Homo sapiens: one gene and its partners. The protein of the gene in region 1 interacts with the protein of each later gene in a pairwise test. Each region holds a gene or a part of one and is shown in the gene's direction. Other genes may lie near its edges.

What was found.
Region 2: the proteins of MS4A3 (region 1) and MS4A13 interact in binary tests that used the Homo sapiens proteins (3 or more experiments, as listed by UniProt).
Region 3: the proteins of MS4A3 (region 1) and TM4SF18 interact in binary tests that used the Homo sapiens proteins (3 or more experiments, as listed by UniProt).

The regions. Positions count from the first base shown.
Region 1 is NC_000011.10:60,055,075-60,058,830, forward strand, and holds the start of MS4A3 (membrane-spanning 4-domains subfamily A member 3), read left to right. Parts: upstream 1-1,590; 5' UTR 1,591-1,666; intron 1,667-3,756. UniProt on the Homo sapiens protein: Hematopoietic modulator for the G1-S cell cycle transition. Modulates the level of phosphorylation of cyclin-dependent kinase 2 (CDK2) through its direct binding to cyclin-dependent kinase inhibitor 3 (CDKN3/KAP).
Region 2 is NC_000011.10:60,525,249-60,529,004, forward strand, and holds part of MS4A13 (membrane-spanning 4-domains subfamily A member 13), read left to right. Parts: coding exon 1-78; intron 79-3,756. UniProt on the Homo sapiens protein: May be involved in signal transduction as a component of a multimeric receptor complex.
Region 3 is NC_000003.12:149,327,005-149,330,760, reverse strand, and holds part of TM4SF18 (transmembrane 4 L6 family member 18), read left to right. Parts: intron 1-341; coding exon 342-431; intron 432-3,756.

The DNA.
Region 1 (3,756 bases):
CCTAAATGTAGACCCTGGAGAGCCGCTGCCCTAGGGCTCAGGTGCCAGCTCTCTTAGCAGAAGCACCTGTGCAGAAATTTTCTGGCAACTGGGCCCCTGCTCATTTCATATTCACAATCTCTGCCCACACACTATGTTTTGGTCTTGGTAACTGGCCCTCTTTCTCTTTCCTGTGATCACGTCCCCACTGACGCTCCTGTTTGTAGGACTAGGACCTCGCTTTCCTTGCTGTGAACATTCTTCTCTGTCTCACAGACTCCCCTGGGGCATGGATCAGGGGCTGTGCCCTCATTCTTTCTCTCAGGCCTGGCCCTGTGACCTTCATAAGGATTGTGGTTTGAATCTTCACGTTACCTACTTCCTTACTCCTTGTCACTTGGCTCTGATCTTTCTATTGCCTATTTTAGGACATTTATTTAGGATAAGCATATAATTTGGCCACTTTTGAAACTGAAAGGAGGCCGGGCGCGATGGCTCATGCCTGTAATCCCAGCACTTTGGGAGGCTGAGGCAGGTGAATCACCGGAGGTCAGGAGTTCGAGACCAGCATGACCAATACGGTGAAACCCTGTCTCTACTAAAAATACAAAAATTAGCTGGGAGTGGTGGTGCATGCCTGTAGTTGCAGCTATTCAGGAGGCTGGAACAGGAGAATTGCTTGAACCCGGGAGGCGGAGGTTGCAGTAAGCCAAGATTGCACCATTGCATTCCAGCCTGGATGACAGAGTGAGACGCCATCTCAATAAACAAACGAAACAAACAAACAAATACAAAAAACCTAAAAAAACCAAAAAACAAAAAAGAAACTGAAAGGAGGGGTTTTAACAATCATATTAGGATAACAGGCACACTTCGGGCTTCACCATTGTACAAAACAGAGATTTTGCACAGGGCTTTTCCAGTTAAATTTTAGGAAAGCTGGGTAACATTTCTATACCATAGTTTTCTCTACCATAACATCGGGTTAATAGTAGTACCTGGGTCCTGGGTTATTGTGAGGATGAGATGAATTAACATATGTAAAGCATTCAGAACAATGACCTGTATGTAGTAACCATTTAATACATTTAAACAATAATTAGCATTATTATTATATCTGTGATATTGGGCAAAGTAATTAACCTCTCTAAGCATGTAAGAATTGAATGTCATCACGCATATAAGGTACATAGCACCGTTGCTGGCACATCATGTAAAATAAGTGCCTGAGTGACCACCTCCCTCCTCCAGATGCTTCTCTTACAGTGTGACTTTGTCTCTTCTTGCTATGCACCTAACACTGTTCTACCTCCAACCCACAACCTCTTCCCACTTGTCTACCCATATTGTTGCTTGTGTTTCCTGTTCCAGCAATGTGTTAAGCAACATCTGAAAGCCAGAAGACAGTTATCCCTCACACCAGTTTCCTAATCATCACTAAGCCCTGGGGAAACACAATGGATCAGCGAGGCCCCAAATGCAGATGTGATTAGCACACTGGTCAGTCAGCCCGCAAAACACTTTCACCAAGTCCTCTAAAGTGTTGCATAAGGCAAAGATAACGTTAAGTCTGTGGAGGCTTCCGTTATCGGGAAAAGATGCTGTAGTGATCTTTTCTGAGTGTCTCCTACTTGCGACAAGGTGGACTTGGGAGGAAAGCCGTCTGCCAAAGCCTGAAGCCTCCAAGGTATAGATTCCCTCTCCATAGACATTCCCCTTTCTTTTATATCTTTCGTTAAAATGCCTCCCAGTGGACTACTGGGGATGTCTGCAAAGGTCTCTGTTTGGTTGCTATGTAGAGGTTTGGAACATTTAACTGTGAACATGGCTTCTCTTTAGGATGTGATGATTCCTTTGGAGCCATGATAAAAAGTGTTAGACATAATAATACAGCAATTTCTTTGGGAAAATGTGGGTATGGATACACACACATGCACACGCACCTCTTAGGTACATTAAATCCCACTGGCTGCACCTGAGTTTGTCTGCCAGCTCTGATGATGAGGGGTGGTCTCGATATGCCTGAAGTATGGGGTCTGCAAAGTGCATTTTAGCATAGCTCAGGGGACAGTGGAGTGTAATGATAGCTTGAGGTTCTGATTTTTAGCTTCTCAAATTGCTGGCTGTGTGGGCTTGGGAAAGCTACTTAACTTCTTTGTTCCTCAGCTTCTTCATCTGTTAGATGGAAAGGATCATAGCAGTAGTACCCATTCATCTGATGTTGTGAGAACTAAATTAGTAAACATGGATAAAGCCCTTAGAACAAATGCCTGCCACATACTAAGAGCTGGAGAGATGAACTTAACTGGCAGTTTCCTAGAAAATCTACATTTCTCTGATTTTGTGTGTGTGTGTGTGTGTGTGAGAGAGAGACAGAGTCTCGCTCTGTCACCCAGGCTGGAGTGCAATGGCACGATTTCGGCTCACTGCAAACTCCGCCTCATGGGTTCAAACAATTCTCCTGCCTCAGCCTCCTGAGTAGCTGGGATTACAGGCGCGTGCTGTCACAACCAGCTAATTTTATGTGTTTTTAGTAGAAACAGGGTTTCACCATGTTAGCAAGGATGATCTCAATCTCCTGACCTTGAGATCCTCCCGCCTCTGCCTCCCAAAGTGCTGGGATTACAGGCATGAGCCACTGCACCCGGACCATTTCTCTGATTTTTTTAAAAATAAATAACTGATTTAACCAAATTTTAGAAAACATAGTTTGTTTCACCTGGAGGCTGAAAATTCTCCCTGATTATTTTGATTATTTGAAACAAATCAAGTTAAATAATATGGTTAGATATTTGCTCTCTTCAGAAATGCTCTTGGAGTTTCTTGAGATGAGAGGCTCCAGTGCTTGCAGAGGTATTTTCCATCATCATTTATCAGGATGGCTACCTTGGGCTGGACCAAAAGTCTGGTTACTGATTGAACATGTGTGTTAACTGAGTGCTTGCCATCTGATGATTCTGAGCTAGGCACTGGAGTTGCAGTGATGAGTAGACAACGAGGTAACAGACAAGTATCCAGGCAATTAAAGCTCAGGCTGATTAAGTGGTATGAGAAGGAAAGTTGAGGAAATTTTGAGAGCAACCCAAAGGGGTGCATGCTTCTTCCAGAGTTGGCCAGGACTAAAAACAGCATCCTGGAAGTATGACATGTGGGCTGAAAATCAGTCTGGAAGGGCCGGGCGCATTGATTCACGCCTGTAATCCCAGCACTTTGGGAGGCTGAGGTGGGTGGATCACCTAGGTCAAGAGTTCGAGACCAGCCTGGCCAACATGGTAAAACCCCATCTCTACTAAAAGTACAAAAATTAGCTGGGTGTGGTGGTGCACGCCTGTAATCCCAGCTACTTGGGAGGCTGAGGCAGGATCATAGCTTGAGCCCAGGAGGCGGAGGTTGCAGTGAGCTGAGATCGGGCCTCTGCACTCCAGCCTGGGAGACAGAGCAAAGCTCCAACTCAAAAAAAAAAAAAAAAAAAAAAAAAAAAAAAAAAAATTCAGTCTGGAAGGAGAGCAGAAATTATCCAGGTGAAGCTTGAGGGGACTTGTCTTTCAGGAATGGGGGATAGCACAGAGGATTGAAGACATTTGAGGGTTTAGAACTTCTGAAGGAAGACAAATCAAGAAAATAAGGCTGGATGGAGTTTTGAGATAGGGATGGGTGAGGGGTGAGGCAGGAGACGTAGGCGAGAGATTATCTGGTCATAAAGCAGCAACATTCTCCGTATTGCATGCATCTTAGTTCATTAGATATTTAATCCAAAATACACACAAATTTCCCAGT
Region 2 (3,756 bases), 470 kb from region 1:
ACAATTACTGCAGTAACTCTAACAATAATAGAGTTGTCTCATTTTAATTCTGTGTCATACAGGAATTATGGACAAGCAGTAAGTGACCAATTCTATGGGAACATATTAATTTTAAAATTATTCTTTTTAATAATTTTGAAATCTTAGGAGGTAAGATGAGGCTTTTATTCGTCCTCATGAAATTCTTTGATTTAGTTGTGAGCTCTTGATTGAAAATTTTAAATCAAAAATAATTCTAGGCTGTGAGTTTTAGTAAATATTAAGAGAATGTTTGAATTCTTGACTTGCTGAATTAAAGTGAGTAAAAATTTGAAAGCTTCAGTGGCAAGTGTCTATGTATTAGGCACAGAGCCACTTAATGATTCTCTTAATACAAGAAAAGTATAATCCTGGACAATAAAACCATTTTGCAAATAAACAAAAGAATTCTGCTACTGACACATATGGTTCAAATTGTAGACACCTAGTAATTTCTGGCTTAACATAGAATTTTTCATACATAGCCTATCTTTGCATCTTACATAAATTTTGCTTTAAGGCCAAAAATGCTAAATATAAATAAACCTAACTTGTTTCCATTTAGTTGCCCAGTAAATGTGAAGATTTTTACTGATAACACAATAGTTTTATTTTAATTATATTGGCTTTAAATTCAGAATCATAAAATATTAGTGGGGCAAAAGACCTTAGCAAAGTTAATACAAAATCTCACATTTAAAGTGAGGACAAATTGGAGTGAAACACCTTGTCTGACCAACAGAACAAAACAAATAACAATTTCAGTAATGAGTAGAAGCGTCATTACAGGTGAAGGATAAACTTCCTCCTCCTCCCCTACACACTTTCACTCCATACCTGTGACATATTATTAAGGGGGACATCAGAGGAAAGAACCCAAACCTGGAGAACAAAACCCTGGAGGACAGTGATACAATAATAGAAAAATGCACTAATACCCCAAAATATATTATCTGTAACAAGTGATTATGTAAACAAACATGGACCAGATTTTCCCTATAAATTATAAGAAAATTGTCCAGTTGCCCTGAACATTCAATCTAGAAATCTTTAGTTCTAATTTTGAGGGCAGAGAATAGGAAAGGAGGACTTAAGTTATTAAGTGCATAATTGTTTCAAGTTATATGTCACCATTCTTATTCATAAACTTTTAATTATCAGTTTAATATGGCATAATTGCCAAGGATTGCCTTTTGCAGTCAGTGTGACAAACTATTGTAGTCTGTATTTATCTGATCTGAACTCAATGATAACGACCAGTTTTATAGTCTCTCAAAATCACAAGTTCAGCACAAGTTTGCTGTGATTAGTTACACAAAATGAGCTTGTATATTAGACTTATATCTCAAAGCCACCATCTTTTTCTAGTGTCATTACAGAATTATATACTTACACTTGCTAAGGCAGCCAACATTTTACAGGACTTTTACATGCCAACTTTTCTCACATAAGCAAGGGGCTTGGCTAAATCTACAAAGTCATCAAGTTTTCAGTGTTCCCAGGCAGGGTCAGAAAAGTGCATGCATCTGAAATATACTCCTCATATAGCAAAATGGTTAATAGTATAGATTCCAGGATCAGAGTGCACTTATTTAAATACTATCCTCAGTACTCACTGTGTGTAAACCCCTGGAAAAGTTTCTTAACTTAACTGTTTCCAAGTTTTCTTTTGTGAGAAATGAAGAAAATGCCTGCTAGTTAACTGCTCTGTTCTTTCTTCCAAACTCCCGGCCTGTTGTTTTAAAAGCTAGTTTGACTTTTCTACTTGGCTATGTTTCTATCACTATTATATCAAACTCAACAGATATAAAATGGAAATTACTTACCTCCTCAGAAGTACTATACTGCAAGACTCCCTCGTTTCAATCTCCCACATACAAAACCTTGACATAATACCTCATCTCTTTCTACTGTCTTTATAATTACCAAATATTGCTTATTCTTCATTTAAGTATTTATTAATTAGGGTTATCTTGGTTTTAAGTAATAGGAAATACAACCCAAGTTGACTTAAGGCAAAAAGGGTCACTTACTTTACTTAAGCTGGGTCCAGAAGCTTACAGTTTACATCATCTGCCAGGAACTCATTCATTCCGTCTCTCTCTCTCTCTCTCTCTCTCTCTCTCTCTCTCTCTCTCTCTCTCTGTGTGTGTGTGTGTGTGTGTGTGTGTGTGTGTGTTTCCGTTTCCTCAGTTTTCATATTTGAGCTGCTCTGGCCAACCTTTTGCCGCTTTCAGTCAGGGAGGGAGTTTTAGAATAGCACTCTCATATAAATTAAAGAATATGGGGCCAGGCACGGTGGCTCACGCCTGTAATCCCAGCACTTTGGAAGGCCAAGGCAGGCGGATCACTTGAGATCAGATGTTCGAGACCAGCCTGGCCAACAAGGTGAAACCCTGTCTCCACTAAAAATACAAAAGTTAGCTGGGCATGGCGGTGGGCACCTGTAATCCCAGCTACTCCGGAGGCTAAGGCACGAGAATCGCTTGAACCCAGGAGGCAGAGGTTGCAGTGAGCCGAGATTGCGCCACTGCACTCCAGCCTGGGTGATAGAGCGAGACTCAGTCTCAAAATAAATTAAATTAAAAAATTAAAAAAAATAAGGAATATGGGTAAAATGACTTTTCACAGTCTTGTCAGCTAAGAGGTCCCAAGTACTTTCTAGCTAAAATGTTATGATTATGATTGTGCATTTCTGCCAACAAAAGTAAATCAAAATTATTTACCTTGGTATTTCAAACTTTCTACATCTTTTCCTTATCCTCCTGTTTATATCATATATGAATGAACACTGTAATTCAGTTAAAACCTGTTTTTCATTTTCTCAAAATGTTATATTGCTTACACTCAGTTTTGTTCTCACATTAAAAACCATAGGTTGTTCAAATATGTATTTTAGCTTTACTCTACTGGTTGTATTTTATGTCTCAATTTTTAAATTATTTTGTCACACTTTTAATTTATGCTATTAAACTCTTTCTGAAACAAGATAGGTTACAAGGAAACAAGCAAATAAAAATTTAAAGTTGCCTAGAATGCTGTTTCCTTCCTTCGTTTTTCTCAGTCCTACCCTTATTTCAAAGGTCCTACCACTTTATGAAGCCTTCCCAGAGAGTAATAGCTTGGAGTGAACCTCCTGTCCCTCCTGTCCCCTATAATGATTGAGCAAGTTTTTATCCATTTTTTATGGTACCTTATATTATCTTTCTGTCTCTTCTACTTCATTATAAACTCTAAGAAATCAGGAAGTTATGTGTCATTGCATTCCTATCATCTAATTCCTACTACCAGATAGTTTCTTGAATATAAAAGATATTAAATAAACCAAACAAAGAAGGAGGAGGAAGAGTTAGAGAAGGAATTGAAAGGGAGAGAATTATGATGTCATTCTTTCTAGTTCTGAGTATCATTCTTGTCTTTCCACAGCCAGCACAAAACCCACATTTTCAGGATGAGTACCAATATTATTCACATAACTAACCAATCGGATTTGTAGTTGAAAATATCTTTCTGATAGCAACAGAAGGGAATCTGTTTTATTTATCCCAGCAGTCACAATCACCTTATGCTTCCAAGTTAAATGTTCTTTGAACTCTTTTTGAATGTATTAATCATTTTAAATGATATTAGAGCAATATATATGTGAGAGTTTTATCACCATGTATGTAAATTTAAGAAGGGTTGTGATTAATAATAGCTGTTTTAATAGAAAAGGATTGCTTGATAAATCTGTTGGTG
Region 3 (3,756 bases), on another chromosome or scaffold:
TTTGCTGCCCAGGGTGGTATTCTCCTGTCCATCCATTTACTTCTCCTTAATCATTAGCTTTTGATGGTTGCTAACCATGATAATAATAGCTAACATTTATCAGTCACTATGAATCAACCACTATACTCAAAATGTCACATATATTACCTCGTGACGATCTCTTGATACCATTTTATACAGAAGGTGTCTCAAATTCACACAGCTAGAAAGTGACAGAGCTTGGATTCAAATCCATATCTACCTGACCCCAGACTCTATGCTTGAAGACGCTGTCCTCTGATTATAAGCACAAATGTAAACTAGCATTTCATTGCTAACATTTTATGTCTTCCCTCCTATAGATGCTTATAGTAACAACAGTTCTTCTGGTACTGGAGAATAATAACAACTATAAATGTTGCCAGAGTGAAAACTGCAGCAAAAAATATGTGGTAAGAGCAACAGTTTTTTTGAGGATGGTTGAGTGGGCTCCAGCTTTCTTTCCTCTCACTCAGAAACACAAAAATATTGACAGTATTATACCCTCACTACTGTTGAGTACAGTACAGAGATCAAGAGTTTACTGCCAAGATCATCTTCCATTTTGCTTAGTCTTTCCTCCACTTTTGTTCTACTGATGCACTTTCAGAAAATCAGCATTTAAAGATACCTAAAATTAGGAAATAATACTTTTTTTTCCTAACTAAGTTTCCATTAGTCTATTTTTTCTTTACAAACTTTATTGAGGGCTAAATTACATATAATAAGTGGCATCCATTAAAATTATGCAATATCATGAGTTTTAACAGTTGACTACACTCATGAAACCACCATTGCAGTCAAGATAACAGAATATTTCTGCCAACCCCCAAAGATTAACCTTTGATTTACTTTTTGTCATTATAGATTAGTTTGTATTTTATATATGTGGAATCATACAATATTTGTCTTTTTTATCTGGGTTTTTTCATCCAGGATAATAATTTTTAGATTCATCCATATTGTTGGGTGTATGTGATGTGCATTTTCTAAGTTGGCACTTGAAAAATAATTAAAATAGTATCAGGGTGAATAATACAACCGCATTTTCTAAGCCAGTGCTCCTGCATTTCTACCATTCTCCTTCTCATCCTCTTCCTCCTCTTCATCGTTTATTCACACTTGCATAGCACTTTATAGTTCTTTCACATTTACTCAGTGAATTAAGTCATTATTGCTCCTATTTTATAGATGAAGCACTTGTGGCTCAAAGAGAACAAGTGATTATTAGCTAGGAGGAGTTTTATGATGATATCTGGTAGGCATTTTTTGCAGCAGTGCTTCTACCTGTTAGCTTCATATTGCAATCACCTGGGAGCTTGGAACAACACTAATGCCTAAATCCCATCCCCAGAGTCCCTGATTTAGTTAGTCTGAGGTACAACCTGGGCATGGATATGTTTTAAATCTCCCCAGGATATTTCAATGCGTAGTCAAGATTGTATGGCAAATTTTCTTTGACCAATGTCTTTTAAAAATTAAATTCGTTGCTTTATTTAGTACTGTGTCCCTTATGGAGAAGAATTGAAAATTTAAAATACACTCGTGTGTGTGTGTGTGTGTGTGTGTGTGTGTGTGTGTGTGTGACCAGTTGACTCAGTCATCCTCCAGTAGCTACTTGTAATATACTTATGGAAGAGATTTCAAAATTGCCTAGGGGAAATAATAAATTCAGGTATAGATTCAAGTTATGATACTCAGAGAATTTCTAGAAAACAAATATATGTGATATTAAGTGTAAAATAAAAATTCACATGTTCAATTTGCCTTAACTCACTATTAGCACTTCTAGCACAAATAGATGCTAGAAATAGTCTGAAAAGGGTCTTATAATCAGCATTAAATTAGATGACTAACATCTCATTGGGAACAGCAGGAGAAAGAAAGAGAGGATTCTCCGGGTTCCCTTTTTGGCCTTTTCAAGGTAAGTTCTAGAAGAGAAGTCCCAATTCAAATGCCCCCAGAAGCCACGTGTGTGACATAAATGAATTAAATGAGCCTGGTAGGCATCAGAGCACAATTTCCATCTAAGGAGGAGAAGGAGCTGCTACTGAAGTCCAGCCAGTTGTTGCCATGATCAAGTAGGGCAATAATTCTCAGTTTTCAGTAGAAAGTAAAAATATGGATTTTTATGTAAAACTTTTCAATTGTAAAATATTGGCAATTAATCTTCATTTAAACCAAACAAAGTACATATTGTGGGAAAAACTGAATCTGCATCAGTTTGTAACTTCCAAAATGTAATAAAAATTGATTCATTTCTTGGTTGTTATCTGCTATGGCCTGAATGTGTTCCTCCAAAATTCACATGGAAACCTAATTCTCACTGTGGCGATATTAAGAGGTGGGATGTTTTTGGAAGTGACTAAGTTATGATGGCTCTTCCCTCATGAATGAGAGTGGTGCCCTTATAAAAGGGGTTGAGGGGAGTACTCTTACCTCCCTTGCACCATGCGAGGACACATAGAAGGTGCCATTTATGAGGAATGAGCCCTCACCAGACACTGAATCTGCCAGTGATCTTGGACTTTCCAGCCTCCAGAAGTGTGAATAATAAAATTCTGTTATTAATTACTCAGTCTAAGGTATTTTTATTATAGCAGCAGGAACTAAGGCACTCTCCATTCCTGCATGGAGTCTGGTTTTCTGCCAAAATTCTTGGACAATTATTCCTGGAAAGCAAATATTGGCCAAATAAGGGCACTTGAAATAATAGCTAATATTTTATTATATTTTATTTTTGAAATTGCCCTGTCACATAGGTACCATTCCTGTCTACATCATCTACAGTTTACAGAAAAGAAAACTATGATTCAAATTCTTATTCCCACTTTATTTTGAGGCTTACCTTGATAGTGCAATGGTATCCACTCATTAGATTGTAGTGTGTGCGTGTGCATGTGTGTGTATGCTATGGCTGCCAGTTTCCCCCAATGAAGAAATTCTTCACTGATCTTCCCAGTGAATATTTTTTCCAGTTTTCCATAAAGAGGATATATTAATGTCATACTCAGTGAAATAATTTTAAACAAAGAAATGTTATTGAGATGATTTTTATTCCTAAAATCACAGGTTTGTTGGTCTTACTTTTTCTGGTCTCAGCTTTTGAATTTATTATCAATTGGTTACTGCATGTTACTATTCTGCTGCCTACTCTCACCCTGCAATCAACATTTCTAAAGCTAATTTTTCCCCCAAACCAAATAACCTTTCTTGGTATCCTTATTTCTGTCTCCTTTTTATCCAAGCCCCAGCTCTGGATTTTTTTTTTTTTTTCATCTCCAGCTACTCATTTCCTCCTTAATGTGTTTTCCTCCAATGTGTGTCTTTGTCACCTCAACTTGCATCTGTCTCCAAGCTGGATCCTTATCTTTGAGGTCTCTTACTTCCAGCTTGTGTGACCACTGCCAGAGCAATCTTCCAAAAGCACATTTTGGGCATATCACTTCCTGCTCAAAAACCAATTACAAGACTTGTTTAAAAAATAGTTTCTGGCCGGACACAGCGGCTCATGCCTGTAATCCCAGCACTTTGGGAGGCCAAGGCAGGTGGATCCCCTGAGGTCAGGAGTTTGAGAGCAGCCTGGCCAACATGGTGAAACCCCATATCTACTAAAAATACAAAAATGAGCTAGGCGTGGCGGCACGTGCCTGTAGTCCCAGCTACTCAGGAGGCTGAGGCAGGAGAATCGTTTGAACCCAGGAGGTGGAGGTTGCAGTGAGCCATGATCAGGCCCTG